Homo sapiens: one gene and its partner. The protein of the gene in region 1 purifies or fractionates together with the protein of each later gene. This does not show direct contact. Each region holds a gene or a part of one and is shown on either strand. Other genes may lie near its edges. The genes, in order: PEX3 and ABCD3.

The links.
Region 2: the proteins of PEX3 (region 1) and ABCD3 purify together in Homo sapiens (affinity purification with mass spectrometry; 2 studies listed by BioGRID and IntAct, with this or other methods). This does not show direct contact.

Annotation. Positions count from the first base shown.
Region 1 is NC_000006.12:143,446,323-143,461,818, reverse strand, and holds the start of PEX3 (peroxisomal biogenesis factor 3), read right to left. Parts: upstream 11,015-15,496; 5' UTR 10,777-11,014; coding exon 10,704-10,776; intron 2,735-10,703; coding exon 2,603-2,734; intron 1-2,602. Other genes in the region: ADAT2 (tRNA-specific adenosine deaminase 2), read left to right, coding at 11,161-11,256, 14,921-14,984. UniProt on the Homo sapiens protein: Involved in peroxisome biosynthesis and integrity. Assembles membrane vesicles before the matrix proteins are translocated. As a docking factor for PEX19, is necessary for the import of peroxisomal membrane proteins in the peroxisomes.
Region 2 is NC_000001.11:94,478,950-94,494,445, forward strand, and holds part of ABCD3 (ATP-binding cassette sub-family D member 3), read left to right. Parts: intron 1-1,514; coding exon 1,515-1,657; intron 1,658-2,482; exon of another isoform or gene 2,483-2,606; intron 2,607-2,625; exon of another isoform or gene 2,626-4,069; intron 4,070-4,220; coding exon 4,221-4,290; intron 4,291-8,592; coding exon 8,593-8,662; intron 8,663-8,744; coding exon 8,745-8,842; intron 8,843-8,942; coding exon 8,943-9,034; intron 9,035-10,775; coding exon 10,776-10,867; intron 10,868-10,953; coding exon 10,954-11,026; intron 11,027-12,234; coding exon 12,235-12,298; intron 12,299-15,496. UniProt on the Homo sapiens protein: Broad substrate specificity ATP-dependent transporter of the ATP-binding cassette (ABC) family that catalyzes the transport of long-chain fatty acids (LCFA)-CoA, dicarboxylic acids-CoA, long-branched-chain fatty acids-CoA and bile acids from the cytosol to the peroxisome lumen for beta-oxydation.

The DNA of each region.
Region 1 (15,496 bases):
GGGCCTCCATGACCAGCTAATGTTTTAAATTTTTTGTACAGATGAGGTCTCACTATGTTGCTCAAGCTTGTCTTGAACTCCTGGGCTCTAGCAATCCTCCCACCTTTGCCTCCCAAAGTGCTGGGATTACAGGTGTGAGCCACCACACCTGGCTATGAACACCACATTCTAAAAGGGAAAACTTCTTGGGTAAGAAAACTACTTATATTTACCCCAAAGCACTCTTTTTTTTTTTTTCTAGTATATCAATTACATCTTATCCAAAGGAATAGAAATTTGATATTATTTGTAACACCATTATCATTGCTCATGTTATGAATTGTACAAAAAATGCAGAATGTGCAGAAAGCTAATTTGGAAAGTTTCACTGAACCTATATTTTGGCTCTTAGAGATTAAATATTTTACTTTTAATTGCCTATAGTCAGCTATTTGTTCATCTTAGGGTTGCATCATGGAAACGTGTGACCCCTATCTTTTGCTGGAGGAGCATACATAATTGACAACCCCATCTGCCACTGCTCTGGATCCATCACCATGTTTGCACTGCTCCCAGCCAATGACACTGCTTGTATGGGCACAGTAAAGCAGGCCCATTTCTGCAGGTCTCCTCTACCAGAAACTTTGGCTTGCAGACTCTTCATGGTCTCCCAATGCTTTCTTAGAACTGTGCTGTAGTCTGAGACTCTTCTTGCCTAATCTTTCTTCCTTCCTTGTCTTTTTCCCTTCACAAATGTCAGACCTGCACTGTGGCCTAAATGCTTCGCTTGCCTTCTTCTGCCTCCCTTCCCCTTTATCCTTTACAGGCATTTCTACTAGTAGATCTCTTGTACATCTAATCCCATCCTAGCATCTGCTTCCCAGGGGACCCAAACTGACACAAGGGTCCATGTCAAACTGCGATGTATTTTAAGACCCCAGCAGCTACATTTTACTTTTTTTTTTTTTTTTTTTTGAGACAGAGTTTCACTCTTGTTGCCCAGGCTGGAGTGCAATGGTGTGATGTCAGCTCACCGCAACCTCCACCTAACAGGTTCAAGTGATTCTCCTGCCTCAGCCTCCCAAGTAGTTGGGATTACAGGCATGCAACACCACGCCCGGCTAATTTTGTATTTTTAGTGGAGATGGGGTTTCTCCACGTTGGTCAGGCTGGTCTCAAATTCCTAACCTCAGGTGATCCACCAGCCTCGGCCTCCCAAAGTGCTGGGATTACAGGCGTGAGCCACCATGCCTGGCCCATTTTATTATTTTTTGAAAATTCAAATAATAAGCAGAAATGGACCATTCCCTAAAAATTCATTAAAATGTCCTAGGCAGTGGCAATATATTGAATGCTAAATGTAAATTTAAAAAGTTATCATTTACCAAGTATTTATCATACATCAAGCACTGTATAGGCATTATCTCATCACGGCCTCACAAAACATTTATGAAGTGGCTTTTATAATGTTCATTTTACTCTCAGAATTGTCATTATGTATAGTATTTATGATTACTATTCGCTTTGCAGAATGAAGGTATTTTTCTGAGTATTACTACTTCAAATATTAAAAATCATACTCCAATTGTAATTTTGGATGTGCCTCTTACCCTTCTTAATCTCAGCCTCAAGTAAAATGAGGTAAGTAAACTAATAATAAAGGCCTTTAACTCTAAAAAATTTCTAATTTTAAAATTAAATAAGGAGAATGTACCTTTATAAATTGTTTCTAAATTAATTGTTCTTGAAAGAATGTTAGAGAAATGAGTAAGCTTTAAACAATAGAAAAGAAAAACAGGCTTTGCATGGATTTGAGAACTAATTCTTCAGTTATGCCAGTTAGGACACACTGTTCTCTTCAAATATGGGCAGGTTGATTTTGTGATGGCATTCTCCCAGGACTATGTTTCTAGCTCTGGAGGTTAAATTATTGCCATTAATTAACATTGCCTGAGTGTATACTATTGTGGACGACTCACAGGTCTATAGTTGCCTACTGTAAATTTAATAAACTTAATGACTCTTTCCTATGGCCCACAGGCCCGATGGGATCAAGCCTACTTCTGCAGCCTTGTTTCCTATCACTGCCATTGTTCATTCTGCTCTAGCTACATGGCCTTTTTGCTGTGTCCTGAGAGTACCAAGCTTGTTCCCGCCTCAGGCATTTCACATGGCTCCCTCCATTGTAACATTTGGTTTCTGCTCAAATGTTACCTCAAAGAAACCTGACTCTACTGATCCCCTGTCTTAAAGAACGTTCCAGCCCTCACATGGCTTTATGTTCCATATGGCAGCCATCACTGCCTAAAGTTACTTATTTGTTGTTTATCATCTTTTCCTCTCCCTAGAATATAAACTCCAAAGGTCAGGGGCTTTTTGTTGTTGTTGTTCACTTCCTGCTTCCCCAGGCCTGGATACAAGTATTTGCTAAATGAATAAATAAAATGAATGAACTGATTTTTAAAATTCACATTAAAATGATGTAATTCAGTTAAATCATTCAAACACTTGCTAGATTTACCATCTTTTCTTTGCCTTTTCCTCTAAATTTGATCCCGGTGATATGCAAATTAATACAACCGTCAAACAACTTTACACATGTATAAATATTTCTCTGTCTTACCTGTCATATTGCAAGTCCTCTGGTTACTTTCAAAATGATATTGTCGTCGTGCTTGGGCAATGTATTCTGCAGCCTCCCTTTCCTGTATTTCTCTGATTTTCTTCTGTCCATATTTCCCCAGAATATATACTCCTACAATCATTAAAAAAGTACTATATTCATTAGAGTACCAAAAATTCTACACAGTATTTTTAACCTACTTTATGCAATTATAAGTTTTATATTAGTGGATAGCTAAAATTACATTTTTAAAACCTAAATAAAGAATTTTGTAAGATTGGCCCAAAGAAAAGGAAATTAGCATTTTTACAGCCAATGACAGAGGAAATGATGGGCACATAAGGACCAGGTTTGAGGAAGGGAAAGGAATTAAATCTAAAAAGTCTGGCAGTGCCTTTACTAGTAGACTAGAGATATTCTACATGTCCAGCAATGGAGAATTGTTTAAATAAATGATAGTCTAGCCATACAACGAAATCTTATGTAGTTATTAAAAACCACATTGCTAAATAATGACTCAAGGAAATATCCATGTTATACTGTTAGGTGATAAAATAAGATCCCAGAAATGTTACTTTTTTTAATGGAAACAGATACAAAAAATAGGTGAGTTTTAATTTCTAAAATATAACAAACAATGATCATTGCTGAATGGTGGGATAACAGGTCATTTTGTCCTCTATATTTTCTTCAATGAACACAAAATGCTTTTTAAAACTATAAGATAAAAATTTTAAAAGGAACAATGAAAGAAAGGTAGTTAGTCAGGCAGAAGTCTATTTATCCATCCATGTGTTAGAAAAATCTCTTTGAGATAAGGAGAGAAAATACAACTCTCTCATCTAAAAATTAGTAACTTAACTGGAAAAAAAAGAGGGAAGAGGGTACAGAAACTCCTAAATTCTAACACCACAGGATAAGAATATAGGTGGTGTCATGTGGCCTGTGATTTAACAGATTTCAGCATAGGCAGTATGATATATATGTGTACATTTTAGTCTATATCTGAGGGGCAGTCAGTTTTCCTAGCTGGGAATGTGAACATTCCAGAGTGGTTAGTTAGCCACACTTGATCAAAAGCCACATTCCAAAGCTTAAGCTCTTCAACTAGCTTTTATCACTGATTTAGCACCAAATATTTTTGATTAGCATAATGATTATCAGGAATGGATTTTCATAGATTAATGGTTTTCAAGATACTGGACTAGCTAAAACATTTTAGTAATATTCATATGAACTAGAATATACAAATCAAGCAAGTCCTTCACCTTTGCCTGGGATCCTTAGCCGCTAGTTCAAAGGATTCTTAGTCAACTGAGTTAACCAGGTAGCCAACCAAATCCTACAGCTAGAATATTGTTGCATTTTCTTCAGGTAAATCTTTTATAAGCAGTTCTGCGGTAGCATGAAACAAGGGCAGAACACTGGGACTTCAATAAGCTTACAGAACAGGTTGTGTTACTTTTAATCTCTGTTTGCCAGTAGATGTTTTTAAGTGTGCCAGAACTTGGTTTCATTATAACCTGAGAGCAAGGCTGTAAGGAATTAACTAATGCTCACCTACCTCCCACTGTCTGTGACCCCCAGTATCTACTAAACATAACCTAAGAATTGTGCATGACCTAAGTAATTAGATTTGGTCTGTCACAGGTAGAAAGTGGGTAGCCCTCTAGCAACTGCAAAACAAATACATATCCTGAATTATTTTCACTAATACAGGTGCTATAGGTGAACTGATAAGATATTACATATTCTTAAAAATAGTAGTTCAGTAAAAGGGTATGTGCTAAAAACAATTAGAACTACAGTATGATTGCTGTTGCTATGTTTATATGCAATTAATGTATTATAACCAAGCTTAAAGAAGAAATGAGAGTTCATATAAGTGGCTACATGGCTACCTTTCCTGTACTCCATTCTAAAGAAACTGATGATAGTGCTACAATACCAACAAAGGAAACTGACTTACATTTCACAAAGTTACTCTATGACAGGCAATTCTGACATAATAGATCTGAAGGAATTGTTTGTATCTTATTTGCACAACAGCTTACTGAAAGTTACATGTAAAATGATTATTTCTCAAATTATACTGTAAAATCAACACTAAGATGACACTTTTTGCACAGCTAAGAATTTTTTTCTTTAACAATAGTAAATTTGATTGGTGTGTTTCTCTGGGGAGAAGGTCCACTGCTTTAATCAGAGTCTCAACAAATCTGATGATTTTTTTTAGGAACTGCTATTTAACACATTTCAGCATAGGCAGTATGATATAAGTGTGTACATTTGGTCTATATCTGAGGGGAAGTCAGTTTTCCTGAGTGCGAAATTTTCCTGAACGTGAAATCAGAATGTGAACATTACAGAGTAGTTAGTTAGCCACACTTTGATATTCTAACTAAACTAAAAAAGAAAATGAATTGCCATGGGAGCCCCAACACCTCAGAATGTGACCTTATTTGGAAATAGAATCTTTACAGTGGTAATCAAGTTAAAATGAGGTCATTAGGGTGGGTCCTAATTCAATAAGACTTGTCCTTATAAAAGGAAACTTGGACATCGACAATTGCAGAGGGAAGACAAAGCAAAAACAGAGGAGATGCCTATCTATGAGCCATGGTGAGAGGGTTGGAATAGATCTTTCCCTTACACTCTGCAGAAGGAACCAATCCTGATCTTAGACTTCTAAATTTCAGGATTGTAAGATAATACATTTCTGCTGCTTAAGCCGCCCATTTTGTGGTACTTGGAAATCAGGCTAAAATCACACAATCCATTATTTTTCTTGATTTTAGCACTGAACTAAGTTCTTATACAAGGTCTAATTCATCCAGGCTCATAAATTCTGATTTTGTCAGATTTGTTCCCTTAGAAAAATAAGAATGAGGACAGGTAATTCATTAGCTAAAACATGGAGCTCATGACTATCTATATACTCGACTGGCAGCCTAGCCTGGAAAACAGGAGATATTGACGGCTCTGGTATCAAGTAGTTATGTGACTTTTGAGAAAGTCCCTTCCTCCCTCTGTGTCTAAATTTCTTCATCCTCAATATGAAAGACTGGGATTATATGAGCTTTAATGTTTCTTTTGTAGCTATGACTTTATGTATTAACAATGAAAATATTTACTAAATACCTTAAAAAATAAATGTCAAATGCTTTGAGTTTTCCATTAATAACATTACTAGAAAATAAGACTTCTAGTCTTTCCACAATTCAGTTGTTTTAAAACCATCTCTTAGTCTTCTCTTTCTGGATGAAAATCCCTACAATGCAACTATTTCACAAGGTTAATAATTTCAAAAAAAGTTTGAAAATAACCTATTGTTCCCAATCCAACAGATCACAAAATCCTACTACAGTATTCTGATTCTATTTCAGACACATTTTCTAAATCTTGCCAATTATCTACAACTTCTTTATCACTGTCACCACTTAGACTCTAAAAATTAATGCTCTTGAACTGGTTCAATAGGTCCCTAACTCTTCACTTTCTGGTCACACACCTGTTTAACCTATCTTATATATGCAAAGTGATTTTCTAAAACATAAATCTCATATCACTCATGTTTTTAGAATCCTTCAACATCTTGCCATCATTTCTTAATGTGGTTTCCCTGTTCCACTTACATTAGAATCACTTGGGACAATTAAAAATGTAGCCTTTAAAGACACTCCTTGAAAATACCCCTAAATGGGCAGGGCGCGGTGGCTCATGCCTGTAATCCCAGCACTTTGGGAGGCCGAGGTGGGCGGATCACGAGGTCAGGAAATCGAGACCATCCTAGCTAACATGGTGAAACCCCGTCTCTACTAAAAATACAAAAAAAAAAAAAAAAAAAAAAAAAAAAATTAGCCGGGCGTGGTGGCGGGCGCCTGCAGTCCCAGCTACTCAAGAGGCTGAGGCAGGAGAATGGCGTGAACCCAGGAGGCGGAGCTTGCCGTGAGCCGAGATCGAGCCACTGCACTCGAGCCTGGGCGACAGAGCAAGACTCCGTCTCAAAAGAAAAGAAAAGAAAAGAAAAGAAAAGAAAAGAAAATACCCCCAAATGTCTTATCTTGCATGATGCTGCATCCCCAGTACATAAACTCTGACTGGGACTCAGAACGCAATAAATATTTGCTGAATTAAGGAATTCTTGAACTGCACTCTAAACCTAAAGAATCAGAATCTGGAATAAAGGATCCTATGTTTTATTAAGCTCCCTAAGTGATTTTTTTATCCATAGTAAACTCTAGCAAGCACCAATACAAAGGATAATGTCCAAATTATGTAGAATGGCTTCATAAGGCCCTTCACAATCTGTACTCTAGCTACTTTTCCAAGTTAATCTTTTGCCACTTCTCATTTGCATAGCCATAGTGAAATACAGTTTCATTCATAAAAAGCAATGTTGCTGAACCTCTTGAATTGCTCTTTTTCCTTCTGTGTCCTTTCTCCTTTGCTAGCTCTACAACTTAAGCAGAAATTCTTCCTTATGGAGCTTTGCCTGACATCTTCACACTTTCTTCTCATCAATGCTCCCACAACACCCTGCTCTATTTTTGTACTATACTATCATACTACTTTTATTTCCATTTCTGTACCATGAGTTCAAAGTCAGGATCTGTCTTATTCCTTTGTATTTCCAGAGTAAAGTACAGTGAGATCAGTCACTTACTCTCATTCAAATGTTTGTTCAATGACAGAATGAATGAATGAATGAATAAAAAATGTGAAGCCAGAGATTACAGGATTTAAGGTATAAATCCAAGTCAATGTTCTGAGGTTTTCAGAAACCAGTAAGTCAATAAATATCAATCTGGTTGCTCTCTGTTCTCCAAAACTTTTTCCAGTGCAATGGTTCTCAAAGTGTGGCATGGGCACCCCTGGGGTCTTTAAGACCATTTCAGGGAGTCTATAAAATCAAAACTGTTTTCGTAATAATACTAAAATGTTATTTGCCTTTTTCATTCTCATTCTCTCATGCGTATACAGTGGAGTAATTGAGAGGTTACATGATGTGTGATACCACAACTGACAGAATATAGAAAGAGATGAGAATCCAGCTTTCTTCAATTAAGCCAAACATTAAAAAGATTTGCAAAATGTAAAACAATGACACTCATTAATTTTTTGAAAATGTTATGTATGTTAATATGTAATAGGTTTATTATTTTAAAATGAATTAATATTTTAAAAAATTTCATTTTAATTTTGAATATCATAACTATTAATAGATATAAAATTTAGAAAGCTTTTGAGGGTCCTTAATTTTTCAGAGTGTAAAGGAGACCTTAGATCAAAAAGTTTGGGAGTCAATTCTCTAGTCTTTTCACAAACTGGTCAAATTATGCCAGGCTCAGTGGCTCATGCCTGTAATTCCAGCACTTTAGGAGGCTGAGGCAGGACGATTGCTTGAGGCCAGGAGTTCAAGACCAGTCTGAGCAATGTAGTGAGACCCCTGTCTCTACAAAATAATTAAAAATTAGCCAAGCATGATGGTGCACACCTGTGGTCCTAGCTACTTGGGAGGCTGAGGTGAGAGGATCGCATGAGTGAGGAAAGTGTGAAGATGTCAGGCAAATCTTCATAAGGAAGCCTTTCTACTTGCCTTACATTGTAAAGCTAGCAAAGGAGAAAACAAGGCTGCAGTGAGCTACGATCACACCATTGTATTCTAGCGTGGGTAACAGAGCAAGATCCTGTCTGAAAAACAAAAAAACAAAAAAACACAAAACCCGAACACACCCAAACCCCCCAAACTGGTCAAATTATACAAACGCGTAAACCAATTAGTTACCCACCCAAAATCTGAGGAAACAGAAATTGTTACTTAAGAAGGCCTGCTACTCAAGGTTTTACTTACTTACTTCCCCCACTATTGAATGCCCAAACTTCTCTGCGCATGCCTGTTGATATACTACCCAGCTTTCAAGCCTGTCAAAATGTGTCTCTTCTTCCATGAAATTCTTCCTGATTTTTCACAACTGCATATGCTACTTGCCAGTGTGATCTGTACAGCATTTTTTCACCTCTCTTGTTTTTCTGTATCTTAATTACATGTATACTTGCTTTTCCTTCCTATCAGACTATAAAGGCCATGAAAGCACAGTGATATAATATGGAAATAGAATGTGCTTTGTGGTCCAACACACCTGGGTTTGAATTCCAGTTCCCCTTCACTAATTCTGAGACCTGAGGCAAGTTTCTTAAATTCTTAGGGTTCTTGCTGCCACATTTTTGAATGGGGATAATAATAATTGTCTTCTTGTCATTCTGCTTAAATAGGAAGAGCTTAGCACAATGCCCAGCGTAAAGTGGGCACCCAATAAATAGTAGCTGTTACTATTAAAAATATATAAATCTTGTATTTCCATTTATATTACCTTCAGCATTACAGGCACTTGATAGGTATTTCTTAAGTTAGACTAATTAAAATCTAACACACTGTAGAACTTTCTCCCTGAAGCAGAAAGAACATGAGACTCAAACAAATGCCAACCACGGTCATCTACTCTTCCTTTCTTTTCAGACTGACTCCTTTTTTGATATAAAACACTAGGATTATTTTCTCTTTCTGGCCGTCTGAACTTTTCTATTTTTTGCATTCCTCTTATTCTGTAACTATAAAGCTCTTGTTAGTTTTTTAAAAAAATTATAAGTTTAAGTATACTCTTTTGCTTCCCCTGTGATTATTTCTAATCTACTACAAAGTTGTTCCATAAGCTGAAGGAGTATTCCTTCTGAGATCGCTAAAGAGATAATTTTCCTTCCTTCAGTAAACGCAAAAATACTTTATTTGTATTTCTTCAATCACACATATATTTTTAGCTTTTATAAATAAAATGGACTCTGTAGTCTTAGGATAATTTAAATATACATTAGATACTAGCGACTGAAGATATCAGAAAATACCTTTTATATATAAAGGATTTCTCGAAGGTGTTCAAAATTTACATATGCTTATTATTGATGTGTGATAGACCTCAGAGACATGCAAAACACCATCCTTGGCTCAGCAACAAGAACTCTGTTTCAAACTTTCAAGCATCACCAAAATCTGAACTATTGATGCTAAAGGTATTAATTGCAAATTGTTTGGGGAGAACAGAATACAATCTAATACGTACTGTTAATTTCAAATTGTTTGGGGAGAACAGAATACAATCTAATACTAAGAGAAAAGCCAACCAAATTCTTTGGGAAACTCTGTTCTTGATTTTAAGTACTTTTGTAAACATAGCATGTAATAAGTGATGAGACTATTTCTCAAAAACTCAAGTTCTAACAAATTTCCTCTTTTATAGTTCCTAGATGTCCTTTTCATATAATTCACAAAACTTTTATTCCCTCCTTCAAATCCCTGAATATTATCACATGAGCATTGTATGAGGGAAAAGCGTCTCAAGATTTTTATCTTATCTGTTTCTAAATCTCCTCTGGGCCTGTGCAACTCAGTTATGTCAGCTAGATTACAATGATCCCAACCTTGAAGATCCTGAGGAAGATTGCACAACATCCCTCAAGCATTTTTCTTACTGCCATAGTTTGTATTCTAAAATGGCAGAAACAGAGCTAAAATATTGATTTGTTTTTCTTTATCTAATCCATATCTTTCAGTCCTTTAGGACAACTGCGCTGTTTTCAAAAATTCAAATCGACTTTAACCACCACCCGAAGTGCAGCCTATAGGTAACTTCCCTAGATTATTATTAAACTCCTGAGAAGGGTGAGAGCCAAAGTATCAAGAGTGCCAAGGAGAAATGCAGAATCTCACAGGAAAGCAGAATTTTTTTTAAAAAGTTCCTGTAAGAGAATGGTGCCTTGAAACAGAAACTTAAACTGTGATGAGTTCTCCAAAGGTCCGTGAGAAAAAAGGATAGGTGAGAAACAGAGTTAAGAGTCGGTGACAGGGCAAAGGGCACAGAGGCATTTCTCAACTGCAGAGATGGGAGAACCCTGGAGGTTGGCCACCTCCCTTTTCATCCCATGGTTGATCGAACTCCCTCTACATATCCCAGACTAGGATCGCCCGGCCTGTCCTTATTTTAGAAGAAGTCACCTCTCCCACCCCCTTCTCCCAATGCCCCCTTTCAAGCACGTTGTCACCCACCTCCAAGGACCGTGCCCAGGAAGATGCATTTCTTTTTGTGGCGTTTCAGAAAATTCCATACAGACCTCAGCATCTTTAGGCCCTAGGGGTGTGGGCTGACTAGGGGTGAGGGACTGCTTCACCAGGAAACTGTTTCTTCGTCACCTGGCCCAGATGACCCAGCAAGAGCGCCGTCGTCCCGTTCTGTGCTCTCCCGAAATCACAAACGTGACTTTCCGCAGAGACTGTCACCGGAGCGGCAAGGGGGCGTGGACTACAGCAAAGCAGCTACGCTTTCTGCCGCTGCCGCCGCGCAGCCGCCGCCGCTCACTGGTCCGACAAGCCCAGGTCCGTTCAGAAATAGCTCCCGAGTGCCTTTTCATTAGACTACCCCCGGAAACGGGGTCCCGGGCCCGCCGCGTTCCGCTGCCCGCGCTCCTCCTCTGCCGCGGGCTCTGTAGCTGAGTGGTGGCTGGGTATGGAGGCGAAGGCGGCACCCAAGCCAGCTGCAAGCGGCGCGTGCTCGGTGTCGGCAGAGGAGACCGAAAAGTGGATGGAGGAGGCGATGCACATGGTGAGGAGCCCGGGAGGTAGATGCTGCGGGGTGGGACCTTTCTCCAGCCCTCAACCCGACCCCGGCATTTGAGCAAACGTTCTTTCTCGTCACCATAATTTTTATGGCAGTCAGATGTTCTGGGTGAACAACTGGCTTTACTGCCTCGAAACTTTCTGTAGCCCATTCTCACAGTGGCTCTGGGCGAAGGAAGGGGAGGAAATACACAAATTATTTGTTTCATTGCGGTGGAGTATGCTGCAGACTTAACATTCTGTCGCCGGCTGGCACGTGCTGCCTCCCTTTCCTTTCTGTGGTCACACACTCTCCAATCTACAAAGTCACATTATTTGAGGTTTTGGCCCTTGGAACATGTCCAGCAGAAGGAAGGAAACTGAGAACGTTTCTGGTAGAGAGCAGTATGGAAACAAGTCCCTGTACAATCGGCGTCTCGCATTCATTCATTATTTCCTCTGCCCTTTTACTTCCTTCCCTCACTCCCTTCAGGACTGCGAAATAAAGGGGGCTTTCAACAGAATGCTGTGTGCTAGCGAGCTTCTTAACTGGGAAAAAAAGTTTGTTTGTAAATATATGTATTTACATTTTAATAACTACATACAGCCACGTGCCACACAATGACCTGTCGGTAAAGGTCGTTATCCTGGAGCATTAAATCTACTCACCTTAGCCCTATTGTCCCATCCAAGTACTAACCAGGCCTGACCCTGCTTAGCTTCCGAGATCGGGGGACATTCAGGGTGGTATGGAGGTAGACAACCCTAGTTTCTATGTAGACTTCTGGGCTAAACACTTTCGCTACCTTTTAGGTTGACCCTGGGCTAGCACATGTAAATACATTTACATACGTTTACAAACAAACTTTTATCCCAGTTAAGAAGCTCGCTAGCACTTTTCAGCTCCATTATAATCTTATAGGACCACATATACAGCGGTGGTGCTATAGGATTATAATGAAGCTGAAAAGTTCCTGTTGCCCAGTGACATGTAGCCCTCCTAACAAGTACTTTTTTTCCTTTAAGACCTTGAAGAAACTTGTATATGCTAAAACCCAAGAAGCAGCTGCCTCCTTAATCCTGTGTAGGAGGACGTAAACTATGGAATCACATCCCTAGGTGTTTATAATACAATTAAGAGACAAAAAATGTCAAAGCCAGAGAGGTCTAGAAATTCTTTGAAAACATCTACATGTTTAAAAAGATACAAAGTAGCATGGCCAGATGCAGTGGCTCATGCCTGTAATCCCAAAACTTTGGAAGGCAGAAGCAAGAGGATCTCTTGATCTCAAAAGTTGAAGAACAGCCTGGGCAACTTAGCCAGACCCCGTCACTACTAAATAAAAATTTAAAAATTAGTAGGGCATGGTGGCATGTGCCTGTAGTCCCAACTACTCAGGAGGCTGAGGAAGGTGGATTGCTTGAGCCTTGGGAGATTGAGGTCGCAGTGAGCCGTGTCTGTGCCACTGTACTCCAACCTGGGAGACAGAGCCAGACCCTGTCTCAAAAAAGAAAAAGATACAAAGTAAAGGAAATACAAAGAAGGAAAATATTTGCGACATATATAAAAGGACAGGTTTAATAACCGTAGCATATAATTTATATAAAATCTAAGTACTTTCCGACGTAAAAGGAAAGATGTATACCCTAATACTGAAAAAGGTCAAAGGCTATGAATATATTTCTTTTTAAAATTTCTTTTTATTTTTAGAAGATTTTTTTTTGGTTTAGACAGGGTCTCTCTGTGTTGCCCGAGCTGGTCTTGAACTCCTGGGCCCGGGCAGTTGTCCCACCTCAGCCTCCCAAAGTGCTGGGATTACAGGTGTGAGTTACCACACCTCACCTGAACATGATATTTCTAAAAGAAGTGACGAGTGAGTAGCCAGCAAATAAATGAATACACAATTTCACTATTAATGAAATTCAAATTAAAATGATACACAATTTTTTACCTGTTAAATTGGCAAAAGTGAAAGCAATTTTAATGCTTGGTGATAATAAGGGTGTGCATGTTTGAGGTGTTTGTTGGTTGGGAGGAGCTGAATTTAGAAAACCCTTTTTTTTTGTATGTAACATGTATATTACAGTTTTTATTTAATATGCTGATAAAGTTAACTCTAGTTAAGCCAAAGTTGAAAGTTTTAAGTTTAATTTACTTTTTTTAAATTATTATACTTTAAGTTCTAGGGTACATGTGCACAATGTGCAGGTTTGTTACATATGTATACATGTGCCATGTTGGTGTGCTGCACCCATTAACTCGTCATTTACATTAGGTATATCTCCTAATGCTATCCCTCCCCTCTCCCCCCAACCCCATGACAGGCCCCGGTGTGTGATGTTCCCCACCCTGTGTCCAAGTGTTCTCATTGTTCAATTCCCATCTATGAGTGAGAACATGCGGTGTTTGGTTTTCTGTCCTTGTGATAGTTTGCTCAGAATGATGGTTAACAGCTTCATCCATGTCCCTACAAATGAAAAGGATGAACTCATCCTTTTTTATGGCTGCATAGTATTCCATGGTGTATATGAGCCACATTTGCTTAATCCAGTCTATAATTGATGGACATTTGGGTTGAGTTCCAAGTCTTTGCTATTGTGAATAGTGCCTCAATAAACATTCTTGTGCATGTGTCTTTATAGCAGCATGATTTATAATCCTTTGGGTATATGCTCAGTAATGGGATGGCTGGGTCAAATGGCATTTCTAGTTTTAGATCCTTGAGGAATCGCCACACTGTCTTCCACAATGGTTGAACTAGTTTACAGTCCCACCAACAGTGTAAAAGCGTAGAACACCCTTTTATTAGGACAATTTGGCTAGGCAGATATAAAAGGCCTTAAAAGTGAGCTTATCCTTTGATCCAGTAATGCCCTTTTTTTTTTTCCCAAAGTGAAAATATTTTAATGTTTTCTTTTTCTGGTTATGTAAATAATTCATGGTCATAAAAAATTCAAACTATAAAAAAGGGTTAACAAATTATGTAAAAATTACCTAAAAGTCCTACTATTAGAGATAATACTATTAGTATTTTGGGAGCATCCTTCCATATCTCTCTGTCCATATGTAAACAGCCATATGTACTTTTGCATAAATGGAATTATATGTTCTCTTTTTGATTATCAGCAGTTTTTTTTGGTAGTCTTAATATATTAGTCACTCCTCCCTACCTCATGGTATTTCTGTTGCTATGGAGTGACTACCTAAAATGGGACAAAGGATGTATGTGCTTTGAAATTATATAGATATTCCTGTATTGCCTTCTAAAACCATAATGCCTAATATCGTAGCCACTAACCACATGTGTCTATTTAAGTTTAAATTAATTAAGGTGAAATAAAATAAAATCTAGCTCCTCAGTTGTATTAGCCACATTTCAAGTAGTCAGCACCCACATATAACCACTGGCTACCGTATTGGACAGTACAGATCAAAGGACATTTCCATCACTACAAAAGGATCTGTTGGATAGCATATAAGGTTATCAACTTTACTGCTTTTTAATAAAACCATTATTTTTCATGGCAGGTTTCTTTCTGAGAGCTAAGCATAGCATCATCATAGGTTATCATTTTAATCATCATAACATGTTCAGCATAACATTCTAAAGATAGGCTTGGAAAAAAGAAGTATGACTAAGTAATAGTGTTGCACTCTTGGTGTGTTCCAGATACTATGCTATGCACAGTGTTTTCATGTGGGCCATGTTATAAGCCCCACAGAAGCCCTATCAGGTGAGTATTATTATGGTCCTCATTTTCAGATGGGATATTGAAGCTGAGAAAGTTCAGTAACTTCCCCAAAGTTAGAGAGCTGGGAAGGATGGGGCTGTGATTTGAGGCCTGTCATCTGCTGTTAAATACTGGCCTGGCCTGCCTCTCGGTGTTAGGTAGCTCACTGCTTGCCAACATATCCTCTGCTCTCTTTCTTCCTTTTCAGTTTCTTTACCTGAATACTGTGTATCTACTGTGTAATTTAATTGAACATTTAGATTTTTTTCTTCTGTGAATTGCCGAGGCATATACTTTCCCCAATTTTGTAATAGTTTGATTTAAAAAATCGCACTGTAGGAGCTCTTTGTATTTTACAGCTGTTTCTAGGAATAAATCACAAAGAAGCAATATAAATATTTATATAGAGAAGTTCTTTACTTGTTTATAATAGTGAAGAATTTGAATCACTTAAATGTCAAATAATAGGAGACTAGTTGGTTGAATCAGATATGTTCATAAGGAGAAATACTGTA
Region 2 (15,496 bases), on another chromosome or scaffold:
TGAAATGTAACTTTAGTCATTTAATATGTAATGTTATTGTTACATATTTATAACACAGCCATATAATAGTATGGTTGTTTTACATATGTGTATGTGTGTATATGCATTTCAGTTGATTAATAAATTATTTCCATACTGGTTTTTGTTGCTTTCCAAAACACTGGAAAAGCAGGGTTTTGGTTTTGCTTTGTTTTGTTTTTCGAATTTTTCTGTTTATTTTCCTAATTCTTTGCTGTCTTGTGATCCAGGTTTTATCATTCTTGTATTTTGTTTTACTATAACCAAGTGAATAGGCCAAATCCTTCTTGTCTCCTTGCAGTCATATTTTTATGGTACTTAACTACATTTTTGTGATACTTAAATATGTCTCCATGTCTACTTGTTATCTGATTCTGCATTTCTTAAAGGCAGAAACTGTTTTAGTTATCTTTTTGGTCCACATTTGTAGTAGTTGTTGATATGCATTGAATTGATCAGATTTACTTTTTTTTTTTTAATCTTGAATACTTACTAGCACATATATTGTGCTAGATAGTAGGAATAAAAAGATAAGTAAGACACAATTCCTGCTGAAGAGGAATTACAATGTGGTAAAACAGGTAGATAGTCAAACAATTATGATGCAGCATGATAAAGTTTAGTAATAGAAGTTTCAAGAAAGTATTTAGTGCCAAGAAGAACTGGAGGTGATATCTGAGCTACTTTGGGGAGGTAAGTAAACATCCATTAGATTATGTCAGGCTTGCCAAACATAAGAACAACCTCACTGAATGGAAACTGTTCAGGAAACATTTATATATTTTAGTATGGCAGAGTATAGGGTATATAGGGGAATGAGGGAAGTGCCTATGATGAACTTGGAAAGGTATGCTTCAAGCATACCTTTCTTTTTCTCTTGGGATGGTCAATGGGTGATGAGGTCACGTACAAAGTTATTAATACATAGTACAGCAGCTGGAAGCAAGATGTACACGCAGGGAAAGACAGAGCTCGTTCAGGGGGAGCTGAACTTGAGGCATCTGCACAGTATTAAGGTAAAGATGTGTAGTACTTATTTCTTGGGTTCATAAGAGTGATAGGACTAGAGGTATAGATTTGAGATGAGAAGAGAACTAAGGAAGGAGTTTGAGGGAATATTAACATTAAAAAAGAAGGCAAGAAAAAGAGGTCTAAGAATTATTGTGGAATCTTAAGAGATTATCAAGAAGAGTTCCAACAGGAGAGTGTTAGATAACATAGAAAAACTGTGAACTGCAATTAGGAGTTTTTAGGTGAGCAAAATGTAGGAGAGCTGAGGGATAAGCTACAGTGGTAAGAGGAAAAGCCCATGAGTAGTAAAAGTGTAGAGGCTACTGTGTACTTTTTCAGAAAAAAAACAAAGGGAAAAAATTACCCAGTAGGGCAATTTCTTTCAGTCATTGAGGTTAATTATAAAAATTGTACATGTTTGTATCTAAGTGAATTTATTATTATATCCCAGAACTTTGTGTATCTTTCTCTCCCAATAATAATAGGGCCCAGCGAGCATGATGGCCTACTTGGTTGTTTCTGGGCTATTCCTAACTCGACTTCGAAGACCCATTGGTAAGATGACAATAACTGAGCAAAAGTATGAAGGAGAATATAGATATGTTAATTCTCGGCTCATCACAAACAGGTAAAGACAAATGCATTAAAGCCTTGCTAAAAATTAATTTCTATGGATATTGATGTCATTTAAATTGACTCCAAAAAGTCTAGTGACACTGTTACTGTAATAATGTGCATATTGTGTTGAAAATATACATTATGAAAGAGACTAGTTTTATAAAGTAGTAATCATGAATATTTTGAACTCTTTTTCTTACTAACCATGTAGTATTCCTGATTCACCTGTTCATACCTTCTGTTGATGAATTTTCTGTTAATTTTACTTCAGACATAATCAGTTTACAATTCAAATTTCAACTTACAATACCTGTTCCAAGACAATTTTGTCTCAATTTTTCCACAAATATTTTTATTTTGACTGTTCATAATGCTCAATGATTCACTGTCACTGCATGTGCCTCTACCTATTTTCTAGAGTTTTTTAAATGTAAGATAGGAAGAAAAAGTGTGGACTTTGGAGCCAGCCATACTAGCTTCAAAATCTACCTCTTCCACTTATCAGTTGCATGTATTTGATTTTAGCGAATTATTCATAGTTTCACTTTTGTTTATAATAGGTAGATAATATAGGGTTGCAATGAGGATTAAATTTGATAATACATATAAAGCTTCCAGCTCAGTTTTTTATATGGAGCAACTGCTCAATAAATGTTCTCATATATTGATCTGTTAATGTTAAGTCATTTTGAGGGTTCTAATATGTATTTAATATTCTACTCTATAGGCATTTGCAAATGACAGTTCCCTCTTCCTTTATTTCCTTGGATTGCTAAAATAGTACAAGTTTTAAATAGGGTTTTTTGCTCTAGGGAGGCAGCGGAATAGAGTTAAGAGGTGATTTGCCAAGTAAATGAAAGATGCCTTTTAGTGAAAGAAGCAGAAAGCATGACTCATGGCTCCAGTAATAAGAACACTCACTGCTTCACGTGAGAACCCTTAAGACAGGGCAGTTCCAGGTATGGCATTATCAGGGCTCTGGCTCTCTGGTGTTCTCTTGGCTCTGCCCTGCTTTGTATGCTGCCCCATTCCTCGGGCTAATTCTTCTTGTGACCACAAGATGGCGATAGCAGTTACAGATTTCACTAGCTCCTCTCCCCTGCAGAAAGCTCCAGAAACAAAAAGGGGCCATCTCGCCTGGTGTGTCTTTATGAGAGCAAAGAAACCTTTCCCAAGAGTCCCACAACTGACTTTCCCTCATATCTTATTGGCTGGAATGGTTACTTGACCATGCCTAAAGCAATCACAGCAAAGTGATTGGCTTAGACCAGTTGGGACCCTAAATGGGGTTGAGGCATTCCTAAAGCATTAGGGTACATGGAAAATAATAGATAACTTTACAAAAGTTGGGATTATTTTAGGAAGAAGAACAATGAAGAGAATAGATGTTGGATGGGCAGCCATCAATATTCCAGGATGTTTTATCCTTTCAGATTTTTCATTAAGGCTAAAATGACTCAGTTCAGGAGGAGAATCCTCACCTCATCTTCTTCCATAGGCTTAGGTGTGGAGAGGAGATAGAAGGAAGTTTTTTTAAAAAGTAATTAGAGGTATAGAATTGTAGGCTTCTTATACTCTTGAGTCTCTGTCATTGTGTCAAGGAAACCATGAAACGCGTGACAAATGTGTCATATCTTATGGGAAGTTAATTTTACTTGAAGTGGTTGAGGTAGGTGGTACCTTGTTTTTATGAAAAACGCAGGTCCATTTCAAAATAGAAATATAAAACATAAATTGTTTAGGGGAAAAAAGAGACTTTAAAGAAATATTTCAACCTTGCCTTCTAGACTTCTCTATAAATATTTTTCTCTGCCATAAGAGGTACTTTGCTGGGAAAGCTTACATCATTCCTGTGTAATAGAAAGACTATAAATGTTAGGGTCAGATAGGAGTTATGATTTCAGCTCCCTGACCTGCTGGCTCTGCAACCTTTACAAATTTACTTAACTACACTGAACTTCTCTTCATCTATAAAATACCTTTTTTTTCTAGTCGTGATCCCTGTGGCCCTTGTGGACCCATGCACATCTGCTCAGGAAACGTGGAATTGTTGTGAGGATATGATGGGGTTCCAGGGTTTCCTCCTGGGAGCTGGCACTTTGAAGCCGGTGGGACTTAGCCTGCTTTTCTGTCTTTAAAAGGCTGTATGTCAAGTCATCACTATCCATCTTTTTCTAGCTGTTGCTTTTTCATCTCTTTCTTGTTTGGGCCTGTACTTTAACTTGAAGTCTGCAATGTTGGTCCCAGCCCTGCCTTTCTGTACATCACAGCAACTTCTTTCTCTAATTTCGAATTTCTGAGAATTCGTGCAGTATGTCTTTTGCAGCCAGGATACCTATGCCATAGGTTGCAGTCCAGCATATGATTCAGTCAGGAGTGTATTCCTGTGCTCCGATCAGCTGAGCTAGGAACAGAATCTCAGGTATAGACTGTGGCTTGAGATGCACCAGATAAGCTCTTAGTCACAAAATGTCCATTTAAATACAAACATTCAGCCATCATATACTGTATTTCAATTATTTTCCAAGCATAGGTAACATTAAAATTAATTGCTAAATTATTTTCTTTAATAGTGAAGAAATTGCCTTTTACAATGGGAATAAAAGAGAAAAGCAGACAGTCCACTCAGTCTTCCGAAAACTGGTAAGATAACACACTTGAGGTTCATGTGTTTATGGAAAGGGTTTTTTTTGTTTGTTTGTTTTGCCTATGGCCGACACACATACACACACACACAAACACACACGTATGTATACATATCTTAAAGATTTTTTGAAAAATAGCTATAAAGGATTTTATACTGCATTTTTAATAAAAAATATGAGATTAAAAACTATCATATCAATATATTCAAGTGCCCATTTATAAAATTGCATAGATTTATTAAAATAATATTAAGTGTACCATCTGATCTTTGACAAACCTGACAAAAACAAGAAATGAGGAAAGGATTCCCTGTTTAATAAATGGTGCTGGGAAAACTGGCTAGCCATATGTAGAAAGCTGAAACTGGATCCCTTCCTTACACCTTATATAAAAATTAATTCAAGATGGATTAAAGACTTAAATGTCAGACCTAAAACCATAAAAACCCTAGAAGAAAACCTAGGCAATACCATTCAGGACATAGGCATGGGCAAGGACTTCATGTCTAAAACACCAAAAGCAATGGCAACAAAAGCCAAAATTGACAAATGGGATCTAATTAAACTAAAGAGCTTCTGCACAGCAAAAGAAACTACCATCAGAGTGAACAGGCAACCTACAGAATGGGAGAAATTTTTTGCAATCTACCCATCTGACAAAGGGCTAATATCCAGAATCTACAAAGAACTTAAACAAATTTACAAGAAAAAAACAACCCCATCAAAAAGTGGGCAAAGGATATGAACAGACACTTCTGAAAAGAAGACATTTATGCAGCCAACAGACACGTGAAAAAATGCTCATCATCGCTGGCCATCAGAGAAATGCAAATCAAAACCACAGTGAGACACTATCTCACACCAGTTAGAATGGCGATCATTGAAAAGTCAGGAAACAACGTGCTGGAGAGGATGTGGAGAAATAGGAACACTTTTACACTGTTGGTGGGACTGTAAACTAGTTCAACCATTGTGGAAGACAGTGTGGCAATTCCTCAGGGATCTAGAACTAGAAACACCATTTGACCCAACCATCCCATTACTGGGTATATACCCAAAGGATTATAATCATGCTGCTATAAAGACACATGCACACATACGTTTATTGTGGCACTATTCACAATAGCAAAGACTTGGAACCAACCCGAATGTCCATCAGTGATAGACTGGACAAAGAAAATGTGGCACATATACACCATGGAATACTATGCAGCCATAAAAATTATGAGTTCATGTCCTTTGTGGGGACATGGATGCAGCTGGCAACCATCATTCTGAGCAAACTGTTGCAAGGACGGAAAACCAAACACTGCATGTTCTCACTCATAGGTGGGAATTGAACAATGAGAACACCTGGACCCAGGGTGGGGAACACCACACACCGGGGCCTGTTGTGGGGTGGGGGCCTGGGGGAGGGATAGCATTAGGAGATATACCTAATGTAAATGACGACTTAATGAGTGCAGCACACCAACATGGCAAATGCATGCATATGTAACAAACCTGCACGTTGTGCACATGTACCCTAGAACTTAAAGTATAATCAAAAACATAAAAAAAAAATTAAGTGTATTTTTACAGAGGTTGCTTAGGAGCCTTATTTAGTGATTCCCACAGAAAGAATTTGTTCCTGAAGCATTCATGAAAATACAATAAAGATTATTATGTAAAGCAAGAGTCAGCAAACTTTTTCCATAAAGGGCAAGATAGTATGTATATATTTTAGGCTTTTCATACCACACAGTGTCTTGCAACTATTCAGCTCCGCTACTCAAGAGTAGCTATATATAATACATGAATGAGTGGGTGTGGCTATGTTCTAATAAAACTTTACTTAAAAAAACAAGTAGCAGGCTAGATTTGGACTATGGGTCAGAGTTTACTGGCTTTTTGTTTTAAAGAATATAAGCATTGTTTCTTGTGAAAGCTTTACTTCAGTTTTTATTTAATTGCCACTTGGAAAATTTGAATTCAAGTACTTTTATTCCATTATTTATTCAAAAGATATTGAATGCCGTCTAGTTGCCTGTGCTCACTCCAGGTGCTAAGGATGATGGTGGTGGACATGATGGATAAAATCTTGCCTTTAAGGAGCTTACATTTTAGTGGAAGTCTGAAGTTTGTGAAATTAAATGTATATTTTAGATGAGTTAAAGAGGTTAAAGAAATTGTCATTTTAAATTATTTCAGAAATTGGATTTTTGCCTCGTCGGTATTTAACATGGCAGAACTTTTAGAGTGCTCACTGGTAGAATGCATTTAAGGTAATTTTTCAGGGGCCTGCAGTTCACCAGTTTGCTCTCCACACGGCTTGCTTATTCTCATCCTTTAGATTTTCAGCCCAAATGTTAACACCTTATTGAAGCTTTGTCTTCTCTGATCAGCCTATTTGAAATGGCCTCCAACAGTTACTTCTTGTTTTAATCATCATCTTTCCTTAAAAGTATATATATATTTGCAGTCAACCCTCTGCATCTGTGGGTTCCAAATCCATGGATTCAACCACACAGATTGAAAATATTCAGAAAAAGAAATTGTGTCTGTACTTATGTACACATATTTTTTTCTTGTCATTATTCTCTGAACAATACAGACATTAGTGTAATAGCTATTTACATTGTATTAAGTTTTATAAGTAATTTAGAGATGACTTAAAGTGTTTGGGATGAGCCAGTTGCGGTGGCTCACCCCTGTAATCCCAGCACTTTGGGAGGCTGAGGCGGGCAGATCAGTTGAGGTCAGGAGTTCGAGACCAGCCTGACCAACATGGCAAAACCCCATCTCTACTAAAAATACAAAAATTAGCCGGTTGTTGTGGCGGGGGCCTATAATCCCAGCTACTCGGGAGGCTGAGGCAGGAGAATCACTGGAACCCAGGAGGCGGAGGTTGCATTGAGCCAAGATGGCACCACTGCACTCCAGCCTTGGCGACAGAGTGAGACTCTGTCTCAAAAAGTAAATAAAGTGTATGGGATGTCGTACTCAGGTATATGCAAATACTATGCCATTTTTCATCAGGGACTTGAGCATCCATGGATTTTGGTATCCAGAAGGTCCTGGAACCAATCCCATCCCCTTTGGATACCGAGGGATGACTGTATTACAGTCTCTAATTATCTTGTTTACTAGTTATGCTCTTTCATTAGAATGTAAACTCCATAAATTCAGGGACCTTCTCTGTTCTATTCATTGTATCTCCAGCTTGAGCACAGTGTCTGACACATGGTAGTCATTGAATAAATGTTCCAGAGATTGTCTAGTTGCAGAAGATACCAAGTTGTTAACAAGCTACCCTGTACTCAGGAAGCCACATTTTAGTGGAGCAGACAATAAATAAACAACTAGATGTTCTGTATAATTTCAGGTAGTAATGAATTCGGTGGCCAAAAATGAAGCAGGATAAAGGGATAGATATGAAGGGGGCTATTGCCCAGCTACTTTAGCTGGAATGGCCAAGATCTTTCTTGAGGAGGTGACATTTAGTCAGAAATCCACATGAAAGTGAAGGAGTCACAAAATATAGATACCTTAGAAGAATGTATTCCTGGCAGTGAGAAGAGCAAGAGGAAATCCTTAAGAAGGTACATGTTTGAGAAACCGTTATTTCTGGAGCTTGGTGAGGAGGAGCAAAGTAGAAGCATATGACCTTAAAAATAGAGCTCAGTGCCAGATCATGCAGGACCTTGAATAATCTGGTAGATGGACAGTTTGAGAACACTACAACTCCAGAATAAAAAAGCAGTTTTAGACTTGTAGTTTTAAGACAATGCGTGCTCATGTTAAAGCTAAAACTGAGGCTGTGTGGCACTGATTTACATTAGCACTCAGTTCAGATTGGGTGTAATACAATTCTTAGATAAAGCACAGACCATGTGTCTCCACTGAAAGCAAAGCATTCAGTGCCAATCCGGACAGCTAGTGTTTCACTCAAACTAGTTAATCTCTGTTCTTTTTGCTTTCGTTGTTGTCCTCTTTTGGGATATGTGTATCCAAAAGCATGGTGACTACAATAGCATTGTGCTATTGCATGCAAGAGAAACAGCATTGTTAAAATTGTTTATGTAATTTCCATGCTGTTTGCATAAAAATGGTTTCATGAAGTGTTTGTTTGGCACCCGCTCTGTGAAGAGCATTGTCCTCGGTGGTGTGATGTACAATATAAACAGAATATAAACAGAAATCACGGGCACTCAGTAAATATTTGTTGAATAAATGAACTATACAGTTTGTTTTATCCTTATAGTAGATTCAGTTTTTTATACAGAGAAAAAGATGGTTTTTTGTTTTTGTTTTCTGCCAGGTGGAACACCTACATAATTTCATTTTGTTTCGGTTTTCAATGGGCTTCATTGATAGTATTATTGCCAAATGTAAGTATATTTTGAAAGAGATGAGATTTGTGGAAAAGGTGAAATACTGTTACTGTTTTAAATCTTACCTGTTTGGTTTCAGACCTTGCCACTGTTGTTGGTTACCTAGTTGTCAGTCGCCCTTTCTTAGATTTGTCTCATCCTCGACATCTCAAGAGTACACATTCGGAACTTCTAGAGGTAAACTGATGATAATACAATGAAAATGTAACAGTAAAAATAAAGCCAAATTTTTAGTCATAGAACTATAAGTAAAAACTAATATTTATTTCTATTTAAGGATTACTACCAAAGTGGAAGAATGCTTTTGCGAATGTCTCAAGCTCTGGGTCGAATAGTTTTGGCTGGGCGTGAAATGACTAGATTGGCCGGGTAAGATTAGTAATAATGAGCTGTTGCAGAAAATAATTTTTAAAAATATATTATCCTTAATGATTGTATCAGTTGAGATTAAGATAAGGGGTCAACATTTCCTAGCCCAGGAAGGTGGTTTTGATAGAAAATTAAGGAAGATTTTTCTGATGGTGAACTTTTCATGTTTCTTGAGGACAGCTGGTTTGCGCAGTACAGTAGATTAGAGGCTGTCAAGTTGTTTGCTCCATGGACACGTATTTGCTAAGTTGGGAAATGTTGAATCATGGCAGTCTTAATTCACAGAAAACTATGTTTATGAATAGAATTTTCTCATTTAAATTTTCTTGTCCTCTACCATACCTTTTTTTCTTGGATCTTAGATACCGGCAACCTAGCAAAACAGATGAATAGAAATGAAGTTGACTTTAATGGGAAAAAAAATGAGATGTTATCTTGTATCTGTAGGCGTGCTTGTGAATGTAGTCATATTATCTAGTAGTAAAATTATCTTTAGACAGTAGAATGAAATTAAATATTAAGATTTCAGTATTTCAATCTCCAATATAAAGGGCATGGTATGGTGTAAAAAACACCATAAATTTTAGGTCACCTGAAGAAGTTTGATGACTGAATATCTTTCCTAGGCCTGTGATCCATCTTCATATTTCTCTTTTTCCTCCTTCTTAGCTCCTGTGGCAGTTATGGTCTTCATGCAATATAGAAGTTGTTAACTACTATGAGTAGAGTCTCTTTCATGAGAATACTAACATTCTTCCTACTTGTTAACTTTTCTTATGGCTTTACAGTTCATGGTATATAAGGTGCTTCTGTTCCTTTAGGGTGTTTCCTTTCACTCTCTCTCTCTCTCTCGCTCTCTTTCTGTGTGGGTGTGTGTGTCTTTCTCTTTCACTCCCTCCCTTCGTCTCCCTGCCCCCCTTTCTTTCTCTTTTTTCCACTTTGTTGAGGTATGATTGACATATAAGAAACTGTTCATATTTAGTGTATACAATTTGATGAATATGGGAATAAGTTATACACGTGTGAAACCATCAAGACCATAAACATTCATCACCTCCCAAAGTTTGCTTTAGGAGGTTTCTGCTTTTTATTCAGAGAAAAATCCTGTTTTCTTCTTCGATGCAGAATACTTTCTCTTTGGCGATCATGGTCATTTTTGTTATCTCCAACCTCTTGTCGTTAGTTTTGATTTTTCTCTATTGCCACAGTGATTTCTATCTAATAATAAGAACTCATCATCTTTCCCCTCTTCAGAGTAAGAAAGAGGGAATCTTTCAGATTCTTCCGTTTGCAGGAAGGCAGCATGCATTCGGCATACATTTAATAAATGCCTTCCTTGGATAGAAAGACCAGCTTTATACATGGCTTTATAGGTCACTTCAGCAAGAGATCAGAGTCCATACTTCCTGGGTCTAAGGAATATACTAGTAGTGGTCCTTTTGTAGTATCCAAGAGAAACCTCCTGAAAATTCTCAGCAAATAACTGCCTTGACTTGGCTATTAATGAAGTATCTGTTGAGTTGGGGATCCTATGGAAACCTCTTCCTTCATCCCTATATTCCTGCTCTCCTACTGAAACATAATAAAGCACACATGTTATCATTAATACTTTATGTTGATGAGACTGTTAGGTTACTTCATTTATACTAAATTATAATTTTAGGAACTTCAGTTTGTATAAAATAAAAGATGTGACAATAGTCTGGAGTTTTGATTATGGTTTCCTTTTCTAAAATTTTAGTTTTACTGCTCGGATTACAGAATTAATGCAAGTACTGAAGGATTTAAATCATGGCAAATATGAGCGCACAATGGTCTCACAACAGGAAAAGGGTAAATATGAGTGTCACAGTTTAAGGTCACAATTTTAAGTGTTTGCTGACATAATATGATGCTTTAATACCTATTTTCCATTTAAGGTATTGAAGGAGTACAAGTCATTCCCTTGATACCTGGTGCTGGAGAAATCATTATTGCAGATAACATTATAAAGTACGTACAGAAAAAGGTCTTTTAGCACCATAAATGTTTGTTAAACTTCATAGTAGTCTTTCTTTTTCAGCTTACAATTGCTTAGTGTTTAAAATTATTTCTGCTTTTTTAAAAAACAGCTTAGAGGTATCATTGACCTAAAAATTGTGTATATTAATATTTAAAGTATGCAACTTGATGCTTTGATATCTGTGTATGTTGTGAAATGATTACGTTTTGGCTAATTAATTTACCTATCGCCTCTACATAGTTAACCATTTTTGTGTGTGTTTAGTGAGAATTTAATTTAGATGTGTCTTAGCAAATTTCAGGTATACAATATAGTATTTTCTACTATTGTCCCAGTACAGTGGATCTACAGAATTTATTCTTCTGGCATCACTGAAATGTTGTGCCATTTGACCAATATTACCCCCATTTCCTCTCTCTCTAACCCCCTGGCAACCACCGTCCTACTCTCTACTTCTATGAGTTTGACTATTTTAGATTCCACATACAAGTAAGATCACATAGTGTTTCTCTTTTTGTGTCTTGCTTATTTTGCTTAGCATAATGTCCTCCAGATCCATCTATGTTGAAAATGGCCCAGTTTCCTTCTTTTTTAAAAGTGGGGTAATATTCTATTGTGTGTATTTTGTGTGTATGTGAATATATACACACTGTACACACTATATTTTCTTTATCCTCTCATCAGTTGAAAGACATTTAGGCAGTTTCCATATATGGACTATTGTAAATAATGCTGGAGTGAACATGGGAGGAAGATTCTCTTTGAGATACTGATTTTATTTCCTTTGGAAATGTTCCCAGAAGTGGGATTGCTAGATCATACGGTAGTCCTAATTTTAATTTTTTGAGGAACATCCATATTGTTTTCCATAATAGCTGTACTATTTGTAGTCCCACCAACAATGTACAAGGTTTCCTTTCTCCACATCTTTGCCAACACTTACCGTTTGTCTCTTTGATAATAGTCATCCTAACAGGTGAGAGGTGATGTCTCATTGTGGTTTTGATTTGCATTTTCCTGATGACTGAGATGTTGAGCACCTTTTCGTATGCCTGTTGGCCATCTGAATTTCTTCTTTTAAGAAGTGTTTAAGCTCTTTGCCCATTTTTTAATCAGGTTATTTGTATTTTTGGTATTGAGTTGTATTAGTTCCTTATATACTTTAAAGTAATTCTCTTTTTAAAAATTTCCTCTATAGGTTTGATCATGTTCCTTTAGCAACGCCAAATGGAGATGTTTTGATCCGAGACCTTAATTTTGAAGTAAGTTTTTAAATGATCATATAAAAGCTTAAATCATCTTTAAAATGTGAACTGAAAAAGATTACCTGAATATTTAAAGTAACTTTAAGGCTCGACTTAGTCTCTGAATCCACAGAATTGCTTTAAAAAGTAAGTCTTTGAAACGCTTAGAAATCTATTTTTCTTAATTGACAGGACTTCAAAATTTCAAATACTACTACCAAAAAACTTTTTGCAAATGAAGTTTATGTCAAGAAAGTCATAGAAAATATAGTAAATTGGAGTCTCCAGTGTAAAATGAGTATTTAAACACACAAATATAATTTTAGTCTCTTTACATTAAAAAGAAACTTATGGTGTGGCTGGTATTGTTGTGACTGTACAGGATGATTTGTACCTATAAAAACAAAATACAGACTGTTTTATTACTGATGAAAACGGGAAGAGCCGCACAGTAGCGCTACAAATAGACACTCACCTAAAACAAGTAAAATCCCATGCCAAGTGAAAACTGATGTTGATTCAATATACTCTGCTAATGAAATGGGATATGGCAGACCAAATTAAAAAGAAAAGACAAAAGATGAATGTTTTTGTACGATTTGTAAGACTCGCAGATTTAAGGGTTACTATTTAGGTTTTCTCTATGTTGTGGCTTTATGAATGGTTCAGATCCAGAAATCTTCATAATTAGTAACAAATTCCTATCACATAGGCTATGTTCCCCATTCTAGACACCATTCCTCTAGAACAACACTTTCCCGTAGAACTTTCTGCAATGATGGAAATGCTCTATACTTTCACTGTCCAGTAAAATAACCATGTGTAGATATTGAGCATGTGAAATGTGACTAGTACAGCTGCAAAACTGAATTTAAAATTTAATTTAATTAATATGATTTAAAATTAAATAGCCACATGTGAGTAGTGGCTATGGTATTGGACAGCACAGCTCTAGAATTCCTCTCCACATGCTAATGTGCATGGCCATCTGTAGTTTGTGTTTCATGTGGGGATTTTTTTCCTACTGCTTTCTTTGAAGGAATATTGTCTGATAGTTTATAAAATAAAGAATATAATTATTGGACTTGTTTTTAATTTGTTACAGTCTTAAGTAAGTCTTCAGTTTTCTGCTCTTAGTAATTTATATTAAGCACATGTCTACTTTCTTCTCAATGAATTATAAAAATGAAAATTGTTAGTTATGCAAAGTACTTTGAACTTATTCAACAATGAGTATTCTATCGTTATCATATTTATTCCAAAGCCAGGAAATACAAGAAGTACAGAAAATGTAAATGTAGTTGGTAAATATTGACTGGCTCCACATATCACAGAAGTGTTTTCTCACATAGCTCCAGGTACTTCAGTCACTTGAATGTTCCTTTGGCAAAGTAGGTAGCCAGGCTTGATTTCCAGTAGCCCCTTTATTGCCACTGTCCAAGGATAAAAAGGACGTGAGACTTCGTTGAAGAATGCCTCTTGTCCCTTTCTCCTACTTACCCTCACTTCTGTCTTTATGCAGAAATAAAATATACCAATAATATAGGGGCACACATGACTGAAGCACAATGAGAAAGGGGGTTGGGATACTTAGAATAGATGGATCATGATTATGGTCCATAATAATATTTTGTCTTGATGTTACCACACTAAAGCTGTCACTTTCTTTTTAGTTCAAAGCCTTTTCTTTTAAAGCCCTTATGTTTGTATTGAATAGACTTCTGTCGTTTCTATAATTTCACTTTTATAGTCTTAAAAATGTCCTAGAAGAAAACCTAGGCATTACCATTCAGGACATAGGCATGGGCAAGGACTTCATGTCTAAAACACCAAAAGCAATGGCAACAAAAGCCAAAATTGACAAATGGGATCTAATTAAACTAAAGAGCTTCTGCACAGCAAAAGAAACTACCATCAGAGTGAACAGGCAGCCTACAAAATGGGAGAAAATTTTCGCAACCTACTCATCTGACAAAGGGCTAATATCCAGAATCTACAATGAACTCAAACAAATTTACAAGAAAAAAACAACCCCATCAAAAAGTGGGCGAAGGACATGAACAGACACTTCTCAAAAGAAGACATTTATGCAGCCAAAAAACACATGAAACAATGCTCACCATCACTGGCCATCAGAGAAATGCAAATCAAAACCACAGTGAGATAACATCTCACACCAGTTAGAATGGCAATCATTAAAAAGTCAGGAAACAACAGGTGCTGGAGAGGATGTGGAGAAATAGGAACACTTTTACACTGTTGGTGGGACTGTAAACTAGTTCAACCATTGTGGAAGTCAGTGTGGGGATTCCTCAGGGATCTAGAACTAGAAATACCATTTGACCCAGCCATCCCATTACTGGGTATATACCCAAAGGACTATAAATCATGCTGCTATAAAGACACATGCACACGTATGTTTATTGCGGCACTATTCACAATAGCAAAGACTTGGAACCAACCCAAATGTCCAACAATGATAGACTGGATAAAGAAAATGTGGCACATATACACCATGGAATACTATGCAGCCATAAAAAAATGATGAGTTCATGTCCTTTGTAGGGACATGGATGAAATTGGAAATCATCATTCTCAGTAAACTATCGCAAGGACAAAAAACCAAACACCGCATATTCTCACTCATAGGTGGGAATTGAACAATGAGAACACATGGACACAGGAAGGGGAACATCACACTCTGGGGACTGTTGTGGGGTGGGGTCCTGGGGGAGGGATAGCATTAGGAGATATACCTAATGCTAAATGACAAGTTAATGGGTGCAGCACACCAGCATGTCACATGTATACATATGTAACTAACCTGCACATTGTGCACATGTACCCTAAAACTTAAAGTATAATAATAATAAAATTAAAAAAAGAACAATAACTACCCTGTATTAAAATACATCAAAATGTTTAAATTAATGAGTTTATTATGATACTCATTATGTTGAAAAGTGACAAAGGGAAAAAAATGTCTTTAATTCTTTCTCTTTTTTGGGTTTCATTTGGAAAGTCTTGAGTCCCCACTTATGTCCTTACTTGTTGGAGTGTTTTACTTCATAACCATGTTCCTTACTTCCTGGTGTTTATCCTGTGATTCTTGTTTTCTCCTCCCCTGGGAACTGTTTCTCTGACTTCTTTTTGGTTCACTGTTATGAATTCTAATCTCTTTCTGACTTAAAGTATTCTAAAGTAGACCTGGGTTTC